Linked DNA regions of Homo sapiens. The protein of the gene in region 1 purifies or fractionates together with the protein of each later gene. This does not show direct contact. Each region holds a gene or a part of one and is shown in the gene's direction. Other genes may lie near its edges. The genes, in order: ZNF444, KLHL15 and SCAND3.

Evidence for each region.
Region 2: the proteins of ZNF444 (region 1) and KLHL15 purify together in Homo sapiens (affinity purification with mass spectrometry; 2 studies listed by BioGRID and IntAct, with this or other methods). This does not show direct contact.
Region 3: the proteins of ZNF444 (region 1) and SCAND3 purify together in Homo sapiens (affinity purification with mass spectrometry; 3 studies listed by BioGRID and IntAct, with this or other methods). This does not show direct contact.

Annotation. Positions count from the first base shown.
Region 1 is NC_000019.10:56,139,659-56,143,409, forward strand, and holds the start of ZNF444 (zinc finger protein 444), read left to right. Parts: upstream 1-1,628; 5' UTR 1,629-1,699; intron 1,700-2,039; exon of another isoform or gene 2,040-2,574; intron 2,575-2,617; exon of another isoform or gene 2,618-3,751. UniProt on the Homo sapiens protein: Transcriptional regulator. Binds to the 5'-flanking critical region of the SCARF1 promoter.
Region 2 is NC_000023.11:23,985,587-23,989,337, reverse strand, and holds part of KLHL15 (kelch-like protein 15), read left to right. Parts: intron 1-307; coding exon 308-1,417; 3' UTR 1,418-3,751. UniProt on the Homo sapiens protein: Substrate-specific adapter for CUL3 E3 ubiquitin-protein ligase complex.
Region 3 is NC_000006.12:28,580,583-28,584,333, reverse strand, and holds part of SCAND3 (SCAN domain-containing protein 3), read left to right. Parts: intron 1-3,751.

The DNA of each region.
Region 1 (3,751 bases):
CTGGGCAACACAGCCAGACCCTGTATCAAAAAACAAAACAAAACAAAACAAAAAACCAAAAAAAAAAAAAGAAAAAAGAATCAAGGGCTGCTTTTCTATTTTTGGCCTCAACATTTGGGTGAAGATGGACTTGCTTTCTAAGATGGTGGAGTAATGGGAAGGAACAAATTTCTTCGCAAGGTGGGGGAGAGAGTGAAAAATTATCTACTGCCCACCTTAGGTTTGAGATGCCTATTAAGAAATCCAAGAGGAGATGTCAAGTAGGCCATCGGATATGAGTGGGAAGAAGATCAGCGTGCTCTAGGAGCAGAAAGGAGGCATGACTGGAACTCATTAAACACGAGGAGAAGACAGTGGTAGACAGGTGGGCCAGGGCAGATTAGGCCACCGTGGGCAAACTGGTCACAAAGTTCTGAGTCAGCCACTCATCGCTTGTGAAACCTGGGGAAAGTTGTTCATTTATGAATATAAGACGAACAACTTCCATGTAATGAATGCTTGTTATGGGTAAGCCACTGTCTTCGTTTTTATGGCGCGGAGTCTTCAGATCAGCCGGGGAGGTGGAGGATGGGAGGGGGATTCTCTTATCCTTGTTGTACGGAGGAGGAAATACGCTGCGGGCTGGGGTAGGGCTTGTATGAGCCATAATCAGGTCTGGAACTGTCTAGATAAAAACTTCAGCTGATCTCTTAGGATGTCTGTCTGCTCTAAAATCCAAATATGCTTCTTCACAGTTCTGAGATGCAGAAACTGAGGCCTCAGGACGGGGCAGTAGTCTGTCCAATAGGGGCACAGCGAGGACGCGTGGCAGGTAGCGCTGTCCCCCAATTCACCCCAGGGGAAACTGAGGCTAAAGAGAGGGCGGTGTCCTGTCCAGGTTCACACACAGGAAGAGCCAAACCGAGGCCCCCGCGCTGGCCCCCTCCTGAGCCACTGCCCACCCCGGAACAGGAGGGCAGCCTGCTCACGTCCTGATTCCTGGCACCGACATCGGCCCTTAAGTTCTGCCCGGGTGGAGAGGGAGGACAAAAAAAAATGCGATCCGTAGTCAAGGAGACGTAGCCTGCACTCCTGATTGGCGCAGAACTCTAGCCTGGTCTCCTCCTCCTCCTCCTCTTCGCTTGCCAGCTTCTAGAGCTCCGGAGGCCCCACCTCCCAAATGCCCGGCGGTGCCCGGCCTCCCCTGATCTCCACAACAACGCCGCCATGGCTCCTCCTCCTCCTCCCTCTTTTTTTCCCGGCACTTCTGCGCATGTCCAGGGCCCGCGCGCAGACCACTGGGAAGCCTCCTCGTGCATTCTGGGAAATGTAGTCCAAAGCCTGTCGCGCTCAGACAGCCCGCGACATTTGCGCCGTCAAGGCCAAATAGGCTGCAGACGACGCTTTCGCGTATCTTGGGAAATGTAGTTCCAGTGTTGGCGAAGACGCCACGCGGTGACAAACAGGAGTAAGGCGGTCCCCAGGCGAGGGCCAATTGGCAGCCGCCTTTGCCGCGATGCTTCCTGGGAGTTGTAGTTCGGGGTGAGGCCGGGGCTTCATGGGGAGTTGTTGGGCTGAACGAGCGGCTCGGAGTATGGGATTGGGGGAGGGGGACGGGGGAGTTTGGCGCAAAGCCTGCTGGGGCATGGAGTCCCGGCGAGCTTTGTGCGCATGTGCGGGGAGGTGAGGGGGCTTGGGGGGCCTCGCCTGAGAGAGTGAGGTGAGCGAGGGGGGAAGGAGGGAGGGATTGGGTGGGGGCGGTTGGACGAGGGAGGGACCAGAGGTTGGATGGGAAGAGGGGCGCCGGGGGCCTCAGGAGGGAAAGATGGGAGACTTGCGGGGAGGGGAGGAGAAGGGGGCTGAGTGATGGGGAAGGGGCTGGGAGAGGGAACTAGAGGGGGAGGGACTTGGAGAGGGGGAGGGGTGGATAGTGGGAGGGGGTCGTGGATCCTCGAGGTCCTGAACGCGGGAGAGAAATGCTGAGGGAGAGGACGGGGGAGGGGCGCCTGGGGGAGGGGGAGGGGCGGGACGGGGGAGGGACAGGTGGGGGAGGGGAAGGGGACCCTAGCAGAGGGTGGGCTGTGAGATGAAAGCTGAGTGGGAAGCTGGACCCTACAAAGGAGTCTGGGGGCGCCGGGACCGGACCCCTTCGGAAAGGTTTGCGGGAAGGGGCTTCCGGGGACGATGGTTATTGTTGTAACGTAGATACGGCGCAGGTGGCTCGTTTTGCGCGCTGCTTCTACAAGTGCAACTTTTACAGAGTTGTGAGATTCCTGAAGATAAGAATCGTTGCTCTGTTTTGCTGCTTTCTCAGTGCGGAGCATCTGCCTTTTTAGCTTGTTGCAAGGCATTATTACCTTCGGTAATATGTGTAAAGTGCTTAGAAACTCTGTTTATTGTCAAATGAAGTTGACCCCCGCCACCTCTACCCCAGTCAGGATGGAGTCACCCTCCTCTATATCCGATTTTAACGCCTATTCCAATGTATACTTAGTATTTTAATCTGCGTGCGTGTTCATAGCAGTGTCCCCTGGGCACCTCGCAGGGAAACTTCGACAAAGTAACCCTAAGTCTGACTGGACACTTACTAGCCAGGTGTGGTTCTCAGCATTTTTGTTCTCCTTCTATCACTTTACAGTCAACGAAATGGAGATACAGGGTATTACAAAAGGTGCCTTGTACCTCGTCCAAGGACACAGAGCTGGTAGGAGGCAGAGCTGGAATTTGCCCCAGAGCCTTTGTGCCGTAGGTAAATATTTGTCCAGTGGGCCAGCGGCTCTCAACCAGGAGTGGTTTTGTCCCCCAGGGGACATGTGGCAATGTCTGGAGACTTTTTTTTTGGTTTTTCCAACTTGGGAAGTGCTACTGGCATCTCATGAAAAGAGGCAGAGATGCTGGTAGACATCGTATGTTGCACAGGATAGCCCGCCACGACACAAGTGCCATTAATGTCGAGGTTGGGAACCTAGAGTAGACAAACCGGTCTTTGTCGAGCACTTAGCCTTTGGAGGCTGCTTCTAACTCCTGCTCCCAGCAGCCTCTTGAGAGGAAGGAGCTCTTGTTAGTCCTGTGTCTCAGGTGGAGAAATGAAGCACAGAGGGGGTAAGTCACACGTCCACAGTCACACTGCTGATGAGTGGCAGAGCTGGAAGTTGAAGCCAGGCAGCCAGACTCCACAGCCTCTTAGCCATGATATTAACCCAGCATATGTGGGTGCTGGTGCCGGGGTACTAGGTGGAACTGGTGTGGACTCTGGAGTCACATCTGGGTCCCATTTGTGGCTCCTTCACTCTCTGAGCATCTCCCTATGGTAAGAGGGGACCCATCTCCCCAGCTCACAGGTCTGTTGGGAAGGTTGGGTGGGGCAGTATAAGACACTAGCCACTCAGTGGCTGTCTTCAAGGCATCCAGGGTGCCTGGCTCTGGACTGGACTGTGCTTTGCGGACACAGACAGCTAGACAGCAGGGTTACAGCTGTTGAATGCACATAGCACAGGGCGCTCATTGGATGGTAGGGTGGATTGACATGGTGGAAGGCCCTTACTTAACAGCATGTGCTTTCTTGGGAGCAGGCCTTGTGCTGGATGGCCCCACCGACCCAGTGAAGAGCTGGACTTGGTCACTGCCCCAGAGAGCTCACTTTCTGGACAGCCCAGGGTGTAGTGACCTGTGATCACCTCTGAGATTGCAAACAGGGTCAGCTTGATGGCCTGTGGCATTGCTCTCTGGCGGAAATTCCTCCTTAGTCCCAGAGGGATCTTTTTTATAGCAG
Region 2 (3,751 bases), on another chromosome or scaffold:
GGGCGCGTGGTGGCAGGCGCCTCAGGAGGCTGAGGCAGAGAAGTGCTTGAACCTGGGAGGCGGAGCTTGCGGTGAGCTGAGTCCATGCAACTGCACTCCAGCCTGGGCAACAGAGTGAGACTCCATCTCCAAAAAAAAAAAAAAGATTTTTTAAAAGCTTTGTAGAAAACAAAAGAAAGTAGGTGATCTTAGCAGGAAAAGCAGTTTTAGTAAAGTGAGCCTAAGATGATCGTATTAGTCAGCTTTGATAATTTGTTTGCAGCTGATGCTTTTTCCTTTGGTTAAATTCTTTTTCTTGTGTTCTTAGGTTAAGACATCAGAATTTTATAGATACTCCCGACAGCTCCGTTACGAAGTTGACCAAGCATTGAATTACTTTCAGAATGTTCACCAGCAGCCTTTGTTGGATATGAAGTCAAGCCGCATCCGTTCTGCAAAACCGCAAACTACAGTATTTCGAGGAATGATTGGACATAGCATGGTTAACAGTAAAATACTTCTCTTAAAGAAACCAAGAGTCTGGTGGGAGCTAGAAGGCCCACAAGTACCTCTGCGACCTGACTGCCTTGCTATCGTCAATAATTTTGTGTTCCTGTTAGGCGGGGAAGAGCTGGGCCCGGATGGTGAATTCCATGCTTCTTCCAAAGTATTCAGGTATGACCCGAGACAGAACTCCTGGCTGCAGATGGCAGATATGTCTGTACCACGCTCTGAATTTGCTGTAGGTGTTATTGGGAAGTTTATTTACGCCGTAGCAGGCAGAACCAGAGATGAGACTTTCTATTCAACTGAGAGATATGACATCACCAACGATAAATGGGAATTTGTGGATCCTTATCCAGTTAACAAATATGGACATGAGGGGACAGTGCTCAATAACAAATTGTTTATCACCGGTGGAATCACCTCATCTTCCACCTCCAAGCAAGTGTGCGTGTTTGACCCCAGCAAAGAAGGGACCATAGAACAACGGACCAGGAGAACTCAAGTGGTTACCAACTGTTGGGAGAATAAGAGCAAGATGAATTACGCGAGATGCTTTCACAAGATGATTTCTTACAATGGCAAGCTTTATGTCTTCGGTGGTGTCTGTGTGATCTTGAGGGCCTCTTTCGAATCTCAGGGATGCCCTTCTACAGAAGTATACAACCCAGAGACTGATCAGTGGACCATCTTGGCATCCATGCCGATTGGTAGAAGTGGCCATGGTGTGACTGTGCTGGACAAACAAATAATGGTTCTTGGAGGCCTTTGTTATAATGGTCATTACAGCGATTCCATCCTCACTTTTGATCCGGATGAAAACAAGTGGAAGGAAGATGAGTACCCTCGGATGCCCTGCAAGCTGGATGGTTTACAAGTATGCAACCTGCATTTTCCGGACTATGTACTGGATGAGGTCAGGCGTTGCAACTAATGACATCCTCCTCCCTAAAAAAAGAGGCAAACAAAGTATTTGTTTGCACAGAGTAATTAATTAAAACATATAAAGAAAAACCTCACCAGTTTTACTATCAAAGCCATTGGTCTAACATTGTAAGAATTTTTCATTCTGTGCTAGCATCCTTTTTTTCTTTTCAGTGGCCTCAAACTCATGCAATAAGTTAATTCTAAGTGCTAGCTCTTGAAACTACTTCCAGAAGCAGTTGAATAGAATGCTCCACTTATCTGGGATATTGATTTTCTGCTTTAAACATTTCTTTCAGATGTTAGCGTAGGAGTCATGTGTCTTCTAAGAGAAGACCCGATAAGTGTCACTGGATGTGATTTCAGTCTCTGTCTCTATCTGAAACCTTTTTGAAGATTTATTTCAGTGTATTTCAGTCTGTTATACTTTTTAGTTTTATTATTTAAAAGTTTAAAACTCTTGACCTTTTTGCATGGCTTTTTGCTGAAAATGCAAAAATATAAATTTTCTACAAAATTAACTTTTTATATTCAAAACACTATTTCTAAGCTGCCTTCTCTTATCCGCATTGTGTTAGTGAAAGCATATTCATACTCGCATACAACCTATAAATACACAAGGCACATCCCTTTTATGCGTGGTTAGGATTCTATATTTTTAAGCTAGTGCACTTACTTGCACACACAGTTCGCCATACTTGTTGAATTTTAGATGTAACGTCTTTTCACATATTAACATTTTTAGAAAGTTGAAATAACTGGAGTCCTCATTTGCTATCAAAGTAGCCTATCTTCAGTCCATACTGATTCAGTAATATTTGAACTCCTTATATTTCTGAAACATGTATGGTTATGAAAACTAACACTTTATATTTTATTTTCAAAAGTAAATGTTAGTGTTCTTTGTCGATGTATGTCTTTTCTTTTTGAAAATGTTTTTCTTTGCAGTCTGTTTAACGTTACCCTGTTTTTAGTGAGAATCGGAGTGGTATATGACAAGTTCTGGCCCTGCAGCATGCAAGCACTTTTAAAGAGCATTTAGGTAATACCAGACTCCTAAATCAAGGCCCCTTAAAAGTAAGTGCAACTCCCATTTTTTACATTCAGTAAGGCTGCTGCATTTGTTATTGAATGGAAGGTAGAAACTCTTAGAAAATTTGACCTCAGTTTTGACTTAGAGGTAAGAAATAGAATTATAATGTTACTGGTTTTATCTACTTGTTTATTTTGTACAAAATACCCAGCGACACTAGGGATGTAAGCCCTCAGTTTTTGTTTTATTTACTGAAAGCTATTAGCATGAAGGATAGTAACCACAAAGTTCAGAATGGATCAAGAATAGCTGTTTAAAAGCATTTATAATAAGTGTTTTAGGATTAGCTGCACCTTTCAACTCTTTAAATGCAGAGGAAAAAACATAGTTGACAAAGTTAAGCAAGAATAACCTGGGAGTGGATCATTGAAATTGATGCCATTTGCGCATGAGTAGTCTATATCTGATACAGACTAGATCTATACTGGCAAAACTTGCCAGATCTTAGAATATTGGTGCAATATTGCAATGCCTTCTATATGGCTGCTGATGTATAAATTTTCTAGTTTCACTTTGTTTGGTGTTTTTTGTTTTTTTGTTTGTTTGTTTGTTTTTTTGCTGCTGCCACCATTGAACATAAAATGGAAGTGTGAAGTCATGGAAATGTGAAGACTTTGGTTTTTGGGGGTTTTTTGGGCAGTTATTAGACATACTATGAGATTAAACCTGATCTTCAAACTCCAGAATTGGAGGCATTTGGGTTTAAGAAACCAGGTACATAAGTAGCTTTTGAAAAAACCATTGGCATTGATTTCAAAAATCAATAATAATCTTATTTTATATATGAGACTTATATTTTCATTAACTAGTCCTGTCATTTACTTACAGTTTCCAAACATGAAATTTGGTATCTTGTTTCCCATGGTAATATGGGTAAAAGTCTTTTTCTACATTTAAAAAATACATTATTTTATTTTTGAAAGTTAGGAATAAGTTAGCCATTTAATTTTTTTCTACATTAGTTTAGTGGCTTTGTATGTGTGCTATTTTGCTTTAAAGAAAATAACGTCTTCATTATTTTCCTCATTGATGTCTTTTGCTAGAAAAGACCAAGAAAGAGCCATCAGGCCAGGTATCCACATCAAAGCCTTTACACTATAGTGGTGGTTCTCTTTAATTGCTTAGATATGACTTCATGACCCTAGTCAGGGTGACATCTGGGCAAACATTTGAGTATTCTTGGTCTTCCATTTTAAAGACAGAGGCCAAGATCAAAGTTCATGTTTTGTAAAATTCGTAAAATCTTAACTT
Region 3 (3,751 bases), on another chromosome or scaffold:
AATTCTTATAATTCTCAGTGATACACCAAGCCACCCTCCAGTAGTCACTGAGCTTTCCTCAAATATCACAGTTCTCATTTTACCTCCCAATACAACTTCTTTACTGCAGCCCCTTAATCATGGTGTGATTGCAATCTTTAAAGCTTATTATTTAAAGCAAACATTCAAGATATTGGTTGCCTATACAGGGGGTGACAGTGCCCTAACATTTTTTGAATTCTGTAAATGATTCAACATTAAACTTATTATTGATATTATTGTAGAGGCCTGGAATGATTTCACAAAAGCCTGTTTGCACGGGGTGTGATATACAATTCTCCCTGATTTAATTTATGATTCCAAAGCCTTTGAGCCTTCAGAAGATCTCCCCAAAACCAACCCAAGCTGTATCGCTCTTGCAAAGGGGGTTGGATTTGAAGAAGTTGCTAGTGAGGATAATGCGGAGCTGCTGCAATCTGACACACAGGATCTTTCTACAGAAGAGCTGCAAGTTAGTTGCTGAGGCACAAATGGAAGGTGTGGAGGAAGAAGAACATGCAGTTCCACAAGCTACAAGCTGCCTCCCAAGAGCTTTTCACTTCTCAGTTATCTTCTGCTTCAAGTATGATAGAGAAGCAGTTGGAGTAGATAAAAGATAATGACTACAATGCAGAACGCAGCATGATTTCACTTCATGACATAAAGCCCTAATTGGACCCATATAAACAGCTTCTTTATGAAAGAAGGAAAGTGTTAAAACAGCAAACACTGGGTATCTTTTTATAAGCCAGTGTCAAATAAATAAAAACAAGATGATAAACGGGAACCCACATCATGTTTCTTGTAGTATCACTATATCCAAGGGTGGAAGAATATAACATCAAATGTTCAAGCGTCTTCACTTGGATTTTTGATGATTATATCTTTCCACCTTTGAATTGTTGTTGTTGTTGTTTGTTTGTTTGTTTGTTTTGAGACAGAGTCTCGCTCTGTCCCCTGGGCTGCAGTGTAGTGGCACGATCTCGGCTCACTGCAAGCTCTGCCTCCGGGGTTCAGTCATTCTCCTGCCTCAGCCTCCCGAGTAGCTGGGACTACAGGCGCCCGCCACCACGCCCGGCTAATTTTTAGTAGATACGAGGTTTCACCGTGTTAACCAGGATGGTCTCAGTCTCCTGACCTCGTGATCCGCCCACCTCGGCCTCCCAAAGTGTTGGGAATACAGGCGTGAGCCACCGTGCCCGACCCACCTTTGAATTTTTGATGATTATATCCTTCCACCCTTGCCCCCCCTTTCCTCACACTTGTTTCTAACAAGATAACATCACCTTTCTAAGGTAAAATCCTATACTTAAAGTAAGATTTATTAATGTCTTATATTTTTACTAGAGTTTTTATAGTGTTTTTTATTTTATTTTATTTTTATTTTTATTTTTTGAGACGGAGTCTCACTCTGTCCCCAGGCAGGAGTGCAGTGGCAGGATCTTGGCTCACTGCAACCTCTGCCTCCCTGGTACAAGCGATTCTCCTGCCTCAGCCTCCTAAGTAGCTGGGATTTACAGGCAAGCGCCACCACGCCCAGCTAATTTTTGTATTTTTAGTAGAGACGTGGCTTCACCATGTTGGCCAGGATGGTCTCGATCTCTTGATCTCATGATCCGCCCGCGTCAGCCTCCCAAAGTGCTGGGAGTACAGGCGTGAGCCACCGTGCGCCAGCCGGGAGTTGTTATAGTTTTAATAATGCTCTAGTGACAAAGTTGTGTAGGTGTTAAAATAGTCCACCCTTTAACCGTATTTTCCCCATAAATCCTGTCACTTTTCTGCAGTTTTGCAGAAAGCATGTTTTTTTAATACATTCATATGTTATGTTGCAGCACAAATGCCTATATAAGCAGTTTCTCACGTCTAGTCAGCACACCCTTTTCTCTTTGCTTTAAATAACAAATACTGTAGTTTTTTTCCCCCTTAAGATATGCCTGTTACTTTAGAATAGGGGTATCCAATCTTTTGGCTTCCCTGGGCCATATTGGAAGAATAATTGTCTTGGGCCACACTAAAATACACTAACACTAACGATTGCTGATGAGCTTAAAAAAAATCACAAAACAATCTTACAATGTTTTAAGAAAGTTTACAAGATTGTGTTGGGCCACATTCAGAACTGTCCTGGGCTGCAAGTGGCCTGCAGGCTGCAGGGTGGATAAGCTTGCTTTAAAATTTCCCCTTCTAGCTTTGTTGAAAAATGTAGCTTCTGGTAGGACTTGGTGTTTGGTCAGTTCCTTGGGTATTGTTCAGGTTATACGCTGATCATGTTTGATAGTTTTTTTAATGTGGTCAGAGTTATAAATATCTCTTAGTGTTGTTGAATATCAAGTTTGTATAAATGTTTCTCATTTTTCTTGTTTTTGTGTGATTTCCCCCACAGGGGAAATACCACTGGCAGACACTTTTAGCTGCCAACCCAGTGTCTATTCTACCCTTCTTTCCTCCCGACAAAATGTTGGTTTTGTTCATACTGGCAATATATCTAATTAAATTCTTTTCCAGGCTTCCTTGTTCTAGAGTTAACTATGCAACAGAATTCTGGCCAGGGAGAAATAAGCATATTTCGGGGAGGAGGTTCCTGGGGAAGCTTTTATTTTCCTGATAGGATAGGGGAGATTACTTTAGTTTCACCTTTTCTCACTTCCAGTCTTGAACACTAATATGATATCTGGCCATCTTCTGACCATTAAGTGATGGTAAGCATGAGGCCAAATGCTAGTGTTAAAAGTGACAGAGCAGAAATATGAAGACAGCTAGGGTCCCTGAAAAACTGTTAGATAAATGAGTTGGTGCCAGCAACTACCTTCTTCTAGGCTTCTTGTTATGTAACAAAAATAAACCCCTATTTGTTTGTGCCACTGTAAGTTAGATGTTCGAATTTATTGGAAATATGTGCATTTCTAATGAACACAGCAATATTTACTCTACCATATTACAACCAAAAGTTTCTTTCCAGCATTTTTATTTATTTATTTGAGATGGAATCTCACTCTGTCACCCAGGCTGGAGGGCAGTGGCACGATCTTGGCTCACTGCAACCTCCACCTCCCAGGCTCAAGCAATCTGCCTTCCTCAGCCTCCTGAGTAGCTGGGACCACAGATATGTGCTACCATGCCTGGCTAATTTTTTGTATTTTGGGCAGTGATGAGGTTTCACTATGTTGCCCAGGCTGGTCTCGAATTCCTGAGCTCAAGCAATCCTCCCACCTCGGCCTCCCAAAGTGCTGAGATTACAGATGTCAGCTACTGCACTCAGCTTCTTTCCAGCGTTAAAAAAAATCAAACCCAGGAATTGAATACTGAAAGACTAATGACTGTCATGACCAGTTTGAAGTAACTTCAGTTTTGTAATTTATTACCACTACCCAAGGTACTCTTCAAACTTCTGTGGTAGAGGCAGAAGTGGAGTTCCTCCCGGTTCTAAGACCAGGCCCACCCATTTTGGTCTAGTCCAGCTGGTGGAAAAGTAGAGGAATCAAGAGACTAGATTTGTGTTTGTGCTTGGGGGGGTGGGGGGGTGGGGGAGAGTCAGTGAATAATTCAGCACAATGAACCATATCCATATTTTGTTTCTTAGTTGCTCCAAAAGCTGGGATTGTGTATACTAACATTACAGAATTGATACATTGTTTAATTATAAACAGCAGGTGGCCCTCTTTCACAGATTCTGTTTCTGGCAGTTATGCAAAGATTTAGACAAATTGAAATGCATGCTATTATATTATACAAA